Regions from separate parts of the Homo sapiens genome. Here region 2 is linked to region 1. The links come from fine-mapping of genetic effects on gene expression. A gene starts in region 1. The other region holds a variant in brackets. All regions are shown on one strand. Distances are between the middles of the regions. Region 1 holds the start of NHSL2 (NHS like 2). Region 2 overlaps NHSL2 (NHS like 2).

Region 1 (4,387 bases):
AAAAGTATCCCTGGAGAGTCCAGCCAAGTCCCTGCTTCCTCCCAGTTGCTCTCTTGGCTCAGGTTTGAGTTTGCCAAATCGAGAATTTGGGGTTTTTATTCTGCAACTGGATTTTACATTTCAGAAAGGGTACAAGTCTTTTGCCCATTTGTTGATTCTTATTTTAATCAGAACCCAACTTTTCTAATATCCATGTTCTAATTTACTAAACAAGAAACAACTATATGCTGAAAAGGGAAATCGGATTACGCTTTTACTTTATTTTTAATTGACAAACAATTATATGTATTTATGGGGCACGATGTGGTTTGATGTATATATATTAATACATTGTGGAATGATTAAATCAAACTAGTTAACATATCCATTACCTCACATATTTACCATTTTTCTGTGGTGTGAACATTTAGAATCTATTAGCAATTTTGAAATATACTAGTTGTAGAACCTTCTTGAACTGCTTCAGGGACAATTAATTATCTGAAGGAATGCATGAAAACAGGCCACGCTTAGAATCATTAATGTAGATGCAGGTATTCTGTTCAAAGTATTTTACTGGCCAGTGTGGTGGCTCATGCCTGTAATCCCAGTGCTTTGGGAGGCTGAGGCAGGAGGATTGCTTGGGGCCAAGGAGTTTAAGGCCAGCCTGGGCAACATAGGGAGATTCCGTCTCTTCAAAAAATAAAAACTAAATTAGCAGGAGTGGTGGCACGTGCCTATAGCCCTAGCTACTCAGGAGGCTGAGACCGGAGGATCCCCTGAGCCCAGAGTGAATTCAAGGCTGCAGTGAGCTGTGACCACACCACTGCACTCCAGCCAGGGTGACAGTGGTAGATCTTGTCTCTTAAAAAAAAAAGTGTTTTGCTAATGGATTATAAAGGATTATAAGGATGTGAACATTTGTAAGAGGAAAAATGAGAAGAGAATGAAGAGAAGGAAGAAACCGAAGTACACCAAAGTCAAAGAAGTGGGTTAGAGGAGAGTCAGATGGGAGCTCAGTGTGTTGAAAATAAGCGTTCTGAGTGGAAAGGTCCTAAGTGCATGAGGACATATGCTCACGTACTCTGGTTTTCTGAGGACAATAATGTGCCCCCTCTTTTCTGCCTTCTGGAATGGAGAGAAATCAGGCCGTGACCACAGGGTTGCCCGCACTGAAAGCACATCTCGGCTCCTGTAACCCTCTTCGGAGAGCATCCCAGCAGCCCAGCCTGGCCAGGGATAGAGCCTATCCCAGCTGGCGGACCCTACCAGAAGGAGGCGTCCCTGGGCTCTCTTTTTGCATAAACTATGGAGTGGCGTCCCTCTATCTGAATTAAGTCTATTGTTCCAGAAAATGGGTTTGTTTCTATTCATCCACTCCAATGGCTTTACAATGTCCAGCCACTGTGGGACTCCCTAGAGACATTGTCTTCTTGAACAGTCGAATAAGATATTTGGTTTTTTGGTCCTTATTTCCAAGCTCCTGGGTGCTAGAAGGTTGTATTCACAGCCTAGTCTAGCCCGTGCGTGGCACCGAGTACGTTTGGGAAAGGAAATCTAGATCAATAAAGTCAAACTATTCGGTCGGTCTTCGCTGATTACCCGCTGGTGTGGGCGCGGGTGTGCTTGAATTTTTTTTTTTTTTTTTGTAATTATGAAGAAAAAGTTTAAGTTAAAAAAAAAAGCAAAAAATAACTTTAACCATCAGAACTGGGAGTGGAGCTCCTCAGGAGGACCGGGGCACACATTCTACACCGTACCTTACGTCCCCCCTCACGCAGACATTCCTTCTTTCACGCTCCAGCTCGCTCTTTTTACTCCTACTTCCCTTTCTCCCTCTCCCGGATCAAGCGTTAATCTGCGAATCTCTGACCGCAAAAGAAGAAAAAAAAAAAAGGTGGGTGGGGGGATCCCGAAGTAGCAGAGCTAGGAGGAGGAGGAGGAGAAAAGAGAGGAGGAGGAGGGGGGAGGAGGAGGAGGAGCCCGGCGAAGCAGAGTCAGAGGGACTGGTGGCTCCGGCGAGTGTGCAGCCCCGGGGGAGCCGGCGCTCTAGGCGAGGAACCCGTCAGCCCGCCTACCCGCCCGTCGTCTTTGGCGCCCGCACGCTCTCCGGCCCGCGCCCAGGGGCCTGCTACACCCGGAGCTGGGGCCGCCGCTCAGGGGCGCTCGGGCCAGGGGCGCTGCTCGGGGTGAGCCCGCCGCGCCGCCAGACTGGTCCCCTGCGCCCGCGCCCGCGGCCGGGATGCCGTTCTACAGGCGCACGGTGGTACCCCAGCGCCTGTGCCCGCGCAACCCGCCGCAGCAGCTGGCGGAGCTCCGCGACGTGAGCCACCTGGCAGCGCTCAGCCTGCTCCGGCAGCTCGCCGACCTCTGTGGCCACTCGTTGGCTCTGCTCGAGGACCTCGAGGGGCACCTGCTGGCCCTGGGGCGCCGCACAGACAGCCTGTACCGGCGCACCGTGCGCCTCCGCCGCCGCCTTCCCTGCCGCCTGCTTGGCCCGGAGGAGGACGAGGAAGAGCTAGGTAAAAACGGCGCCCCGGTGGCTCGCGGCCCCGCGTCTACCCCGCCTCTAGGGGCGCCGGTCGGCGCTTAGCGCTGTGCCCACCCTCTCCCCGCCTCTCTCCGCCCCTCCCCTCCCCTCCATTCGGGGAGTGAGGGGATCCCATTTCCCCGACCCCCGCCTCCGCCCCACGGTCGCCCTACCGCTGGAACTTCCTGCTCTTGGACCCGGTCGCGCCGTCCGGAGTGGCCCCGTGCCCTTGGGACTCCCGACCCTGGGGTTGGTGGCCGCCTCCTGGGGTTTTGGCTGGGGACGCGCTGGGTCCAGGACGGCTTGGGCGATACTCCCCCTACCCGCCCACCTAGCCCCAGGCCCTCGGCGCCGTCCTCATCGCCGCGTCGGGAGCTAAATGGCCGAGCCGCTGGCTTCTTTGCTCCTGTCTAGGAGCTCGGCCACTTCAGAAAGCGCGCCGCAGCCGACCGCAACCTACGCGGCGGCAGGAGCCGGCGGTGGTGCCTACAGGCTTTAAACCTGTGCAACTTCCCGCTGGAGCGTGGACGCGGCTCCCACTCACAGGAGTGTCTGAGCGTCCTCCCGCTTGCTTCTCTCCGCACGTTTTGGGCCGCTGTGCTGGGGAGTGGCCGGGAGGGGGGAGGGGAGAATGTCCGGGGCTTTGCTGACCCCCTACCCACTACCGCTAGGGTCTGGCTGTTATTTGCTGGAGAGAATCATTTAAAGAAACTATCATCAGTTTCCTGAAGCGCATTCACTTTAGGAATCAGCCATGCCTGAGAAACCAGGTTCCAGTGGTGCCCTCACTGAGCACGCGGGACGTGTGAGAGGGTAGGGGGGCTACGCGAGCCCTTGTCCTTTACTGTTTTGGATCCCAGCACTTTACACGGGGAATCCTCTGTCTGTGGAAATGCAGTGCCCCTGAGAGTGTGGGACTTCTGCTGAAAGCAAGGGGACTGAGTAGGCTGGAAATGCTGACTACAGCTGGGGCATGCCAGGTACCAGGGCCAATCGGTTCCTCCAGAAAGCTGGGGAGAGAAGGAGCAGTGTGGCCAGAAAGTTTCCAATGGGGGCAGAAGATGACTGCTGGCTGATTTCTGAGTGCAAGCTTCCAGCTAACTTGGGAAAGAATTGCCTGGGCCAGCCCCTCTTCATTGCAGACCCCACCCCATCCCCACCCCTTCCAGAAGGACTGGAGTCAGGCCCTGGCACCTCTCTTCATAAAGGTCTCTGACCTCTGAGGTAGATGGCAGAGGTCTCTGGTGGAGATAAATGAACTGAGTCCTATTGGAAAAGAAAGGTGGAAGCCACAGATGACTGCCAGATGGAATGTAGACGTTGGACCAGGAGCCTCTGCATGGCAGGGGCTCAGTTTTTTGCTGGGGTCCCACTGATTACAGGATTAGTCTAGGAGAAATTTGATAAGTCAGCTTGAGGAGTAGTTTTCAAAATCCCTACACAGTTTGCAGAGAGCCACCTACTGAGTTCAGTAGGGTAAGTTAAGGACAGTTTTTTCAACTCTACCTTCCTGTCCACTGAATTAGCAAGCCCTTTCTGTGGGAGGGAAGGCAGGGCTTCACCAAGTCACCTTTGGGACCTAACCCTCTCCGGTGATCTGCCAGGTTAGAAGGAGATGGCTTTATGCAATGGATAGCTTGCAATGGAGAGGAACAATTGTTAAGTTAAATTACCACTGGTTTGGCTTCTTGGCAGTTTTCAAGAGCAGGAAGAGTGGCCATCTCTCATCCCTGGTGTGGCCTCTTGCTTTTGAGAATGTACATGTCCCACGGCTCAGAGGCACCCAAGGGACTGCTGCATAAATGGAACACAGCTACCTTCTGTAAGTTGGTGAAAAGGTCTGATTTTCCATTTTCTGGTCTAATGCCCTACCCTAGA
Region 2 (4,387 bases), 200 kb after region 1:
AAGAGTTGAGGATCATCCTCTGAGATGATCTTGGGGCGTTTGGAGTGATTGTGCTCAACAAGGAAGAAAAGGCAGGGAGAGAAAAGAGGCCAAGGCAGGGAATTGTCATAGGCTGGCATCTCCAAGAAACAGATTTGGAGATATTGATTTGCCTGCAAAAGGTTTGTTGGGAACTGCCTTCTAGAACAGCACCTGTGAGGGAGCAGGATCGGTCAGAGACAGGAGTTCACCTGCAGTGTGGGCACACTGGAGACCTCAGTTGATAACATGGGAAGCTCTGGAGCTGAGATGCTCTTCAGATGGCCCCAGTTGAGGCCAGGCAGCTGGGCCTTTCTTCCCCCACCTCCCACCCCACCCCATCTATTAACGAGATCTTGGATGCAGGCTGCCCCCCAGGAAAGGGGTTGTTACCTTGGAGAAGAGACTCAACCGTGAGCCATGGACCAACACCTCTGGTAGCTGGGGGACTGAGTGCCTTGGTCCTGAATGGGGGATCAAGCAGCTCAAGGTCTGGTGTTCTAGTCACTCAGGAAATGCAACTGGCTCCCTCCCACCCTGCAGGCCTCTGGGCAAGTCCCTCCCTGCAGCCCAAAGCCAGGTATAGGAGTCCCAGGGACAGGGAGTCAGGACCTAAAAGGAATTTGAGTCCTTGATGCCTGTAATTCAGAGTCCTCAGTCTTTCCCCCAACCTCTCTCACTTGGGGCTAAGATAAGTGGGATGAGGTAGGCGGAAGTTGGAGGGAACCGTGCCGTTGTCATCTTCTGCACAGTTTGTTTATAAGAGGTTACCAAACTAAGCAAATCAGCCACCATGGAAACAGTCTCTGTGGCTTTCACATCCCTCCCTTCCTTCTGGGGTGACCTGCATCTCAAAGAGGGATGTCACCACAGTTGAGGTTACAGGTCTGCTCACAAGGCCTGTGAGCTACCCAGGAAATGCAATACTGTTATAGCCACCAGGTGAAAGAAGGTTGGGCTTCATTTTTAAAGAGAGAAATATAAAAACTTGACTTTCGATTTTGACGTTCATGTCCTTACGCCAAAAAATCAAACCAAATAGCAACTGAACTGACTACGTGTAATTTCCCCCAAACCTTTGAAATTTACAGTAGCTCTAGGAAACTTGAATCCATGAGGCCGGGCGCGGTGGCTCACGCCTGTAATCCCAGCACTTTGGGAGGCTGAGGCGGGCAGATCATGAGGTCAGGAGATCGAGACCATCCTGGCTAGCACAGTGAAACCCCGTCTCTACTAAAAATACAAAACATTAGCCGGGCGAGGTGGCGGGTGCCTGTAGTCCCAGCTACTCAGGAGGCTGAGGCAGGAGAATGGCGTGAACCCCGGGGGGGCAGAGCCTGCAGTGAGCCGAGATCGCGCCACTGCACTCCAGCCTGGGCGACAGCAAGACTCTGTCTAAAAAAAAAAAAGAAACTTGAATTCATTCATTCATTCCCTCATTACACACACACACACACACACACATACACACACAAAGGTTCTGAGTTTGCAAGATGATAGGCTGAAAGACCAAGTGTGGCCTGAAGTTCAGGTTTTTTTGTTCTGCATGGTTTAAAAAACGAATTTTCCACACTCAGAAGTGCAGCTTAAAAATAAATAAACAAATACCATCTCATGCCAGTTAGAATGGCGATCATTAAAAAGTCAGGAAACAACAGATGCTGGGGAGGATGTGGAGAAATAGGAATGCATTTACACTGTTGGTGGGAGTGTAAATTAGTTCAACCATTGTGGAAGACAGTGTGGCGATTCCTCAGGGATCTAGAACTAGAAATACCATTTGACCCAGCCATCCCATTACTGGGTATATACCCAGAGGATTATAAATCATGCTACTATAAAGACACACACACAGATATGTTTATTGTGGCACTATTCACAATAGCAGACTTGAAACCAACCCAAATATCCATCAATGATAGACTGGATTAAGAAAATGTGGCACATACACACTATGGAATACTGTGCAGCCATAAAAACAAATGAGTTCATGTCCTTTGCAGGGACATGGATGA[G/A]GCTGGAAATCATCATTCTCAGCAAACTATCACAAGGACAGAAAACCAAACACTGCATGTTCTCACACATAGGTGGGAGTTGAACAACGAGAACACATGGACACAGGAAGGGGGAACATCACACACCGGGGCTTGTCGGGGGGTGGGGGCTGGGGGAGGGATAGCATTAGGAGAAATACCTAATGTAAATGACGAGTTGATGGGTGCAGCAAACCAACATGGCACATGTGTACCTATGTAACAAACCTGCACATTGCACACATGTACCCTAGAACTCAGAGTATAATAAAAAATAAATAAATAAAATTTTTTAAAAGGCCGGGCGCGGTGGCTCATGCCTGTAATCCTAGCACTTTGGGAGGCCGAGGTGGGTGGATCACGAGGTCAGGAGATGGAGACCATCCTGGCTAACACGGTGAAACCCCGTCTCTACTAAAAATACAAAAAAATTAAATAAATAAATAAATAAATAAACAATAAATAAATAATGTAAGTTAGTTCCCAATGCACTTTCTTAAAAAATCTTAAGATCTGGTCCCAATGGATGAATCAGCTAATACTAAGGGGTTTGGCCCCCTTGTGGGTAGGCAGGGAGTTCCACGGTTCACGGCAGGGCCCATTTAGCCTGCTTCTCTCTTTGGTGTTACCTGCCTGGGCCCTGCCAGTGTTTGTGCTCATGAGCCCTTGATTTGGCTAAGCTGGGTGCTGAGGTTACACAATGATAGATGATGTCATTGCTCTGCTCTGCTGTCTCCTCTGCCCTCAGGGCTCACCATCTCGTGGGGAGGACGACTCATGTGCACCAACAGACAGAAGACAGAGTCCCGGGGGGGTGTTGGAGGAAGGAACAACCCATGAGGAAAAGCGAAGTTGGGACAATGTCATAGAGACTCTAGGAGCAAGGGTAGACTTCTACTAGGTGGAAAAGAGGGCAGGGGTGGGAGAACGGCATTCTAGAGCAAAGGAACAATTCAGCTGATGAATGGTGCTCCTAAAGGAAGTGGCGCATGTGAAGCGGAGAAGAGGCAGGGGCCAGAATGGGAAGACCCTGTCAGCCAGCCTGAGGAACTGGCATTTTATCCTGATGGTTTTGAGGCAGAGGGAAGAGCTGATATGACTTGTGTGTGTCTAGAAGATGACTCTCTTGGCCCCGTGGAGGCTGGATCGTAAGAGAGCAAGATCTGAGGGAGGAAGAGCAGCAGGTAGGAGGTTCTTGTAATTGTTTAGGTGAGAAGTAACAGGGCTTTGATTTGGAGAGGTGCCAGTGAGTGGGAGAAGGAACAGATTTGAGAGGGAGTTAGGAGGTCAGATTGACAGGTCTTGGTGATTCCTCAAGGTGGAAAGTAAAAACCGGGACCCAGTGGCACAGTGGTGTGCAGTGTTATCCTAGCCATGGCAGTAGCTGCCCTTTGTTAAGGGTTCTGGAGCATTTGCAGTACTTGCCCTTACATTAACTCACCCCAGCCTCAAAGTCAAAGACACCAAACTTCTGCCTGTCCACAGGCTTCGTGCAGCACTTCCTAGGTGCCAGGCTGAAGTGTTGCCTTCACATTCACTCACTGCGTCATCACAACTTCCCTAGGAAGTAGTTACTATTCTTACGTCATTTTACAGATGAGGAAACAGAGGCCCATAGAGGCAACGTGAATCTCCCAGGGTCACACAGCTGATAAGCGACAGAGCCAGGATTTGAACCCACATCGTCTGCTCCAGAGCCTTCGCTCTGCTGCCTGGGGGCGGGACCAGAAGAGTGGTCACTGAGCACAGAGACCTTCTGCACACAGAGCAGCCTGAGCAAACTGCAGCAGGCTAGTAGTGTGTGCATCCCACACATTTCTCCAGTGAGCATCTAGACGTGAAATCCCGAGGCCTTGGATGGGCTTTCTAGTTCCAGAAATTTGAGGACATGCGGGTCCGGCAGGGAAGAAGGAAACGCTGAGCCCAGGTTGCCGGCACTGTAGGCAGTGAAGGAGAGCAGTCAGGTCACACCACACAGTTCCCTTCCCCGCCCCAGACCATAGACCCTCCAACAGCTTTCAGGTATGTCGAGCATCAAACCCCAATTCCTGACCGCAGCCCATAAGACTCTGAAGTAATATGGCCCCTGACCACCTCTGTGACATCTTTTCTTGCCATGCTCCCCTCATACATCGCACATACACTGGCTCCTTTCAGTCATCCTTTTCCACCCCAGGGCCTTTGCATTTGCTGTTTCCCCTGCCAAGTGTGCTCTTTTTCTCTTTGTGCGGCTGGTTCCTTCTTATCATTCAGATCTCCTCTGCTTTAGTGTGAACTCCGTGAGGGCATGGACTGTGTCTGTCCTGTTCACTGTTGTATTCCCCAAGCTTATGGGC

The links. PIP is the estimated chance that this variant, and not a neighbour inherited with it, causes the effect. A credible set is the group of variants that fine-mapping cannot tell apart.
Region 2: its variant is the best candidate, but not a certain one, in a credible set for the expression of NHSL2 in whole blood (TOPMed, PIP 0.86).

Annotation. Positions count from the first base shown.
Region 1 is chrX:71,908,867-71,913,253 of GRCh38, forward strand. NHSL2 (NHS like 2) reads left to right here and starts at 1,979. Exons shown (of 8, transcript NM_001013627.3): 1 at 1,979-2,501. The coding sequence starts at 2,222.
Region 2 is chrX:72,104,793-72,109,179 of GRCh38, forward strand. The region is part of intron 1 of NHSL2 (NHS like 2); the gene reads left to right. Among named protein-coding and RNA genes, the nearest start is that of RTL5, 25 kb to the right of the region's middle. The variant G/A (reference allele first, on the strand shown) is at 2,034.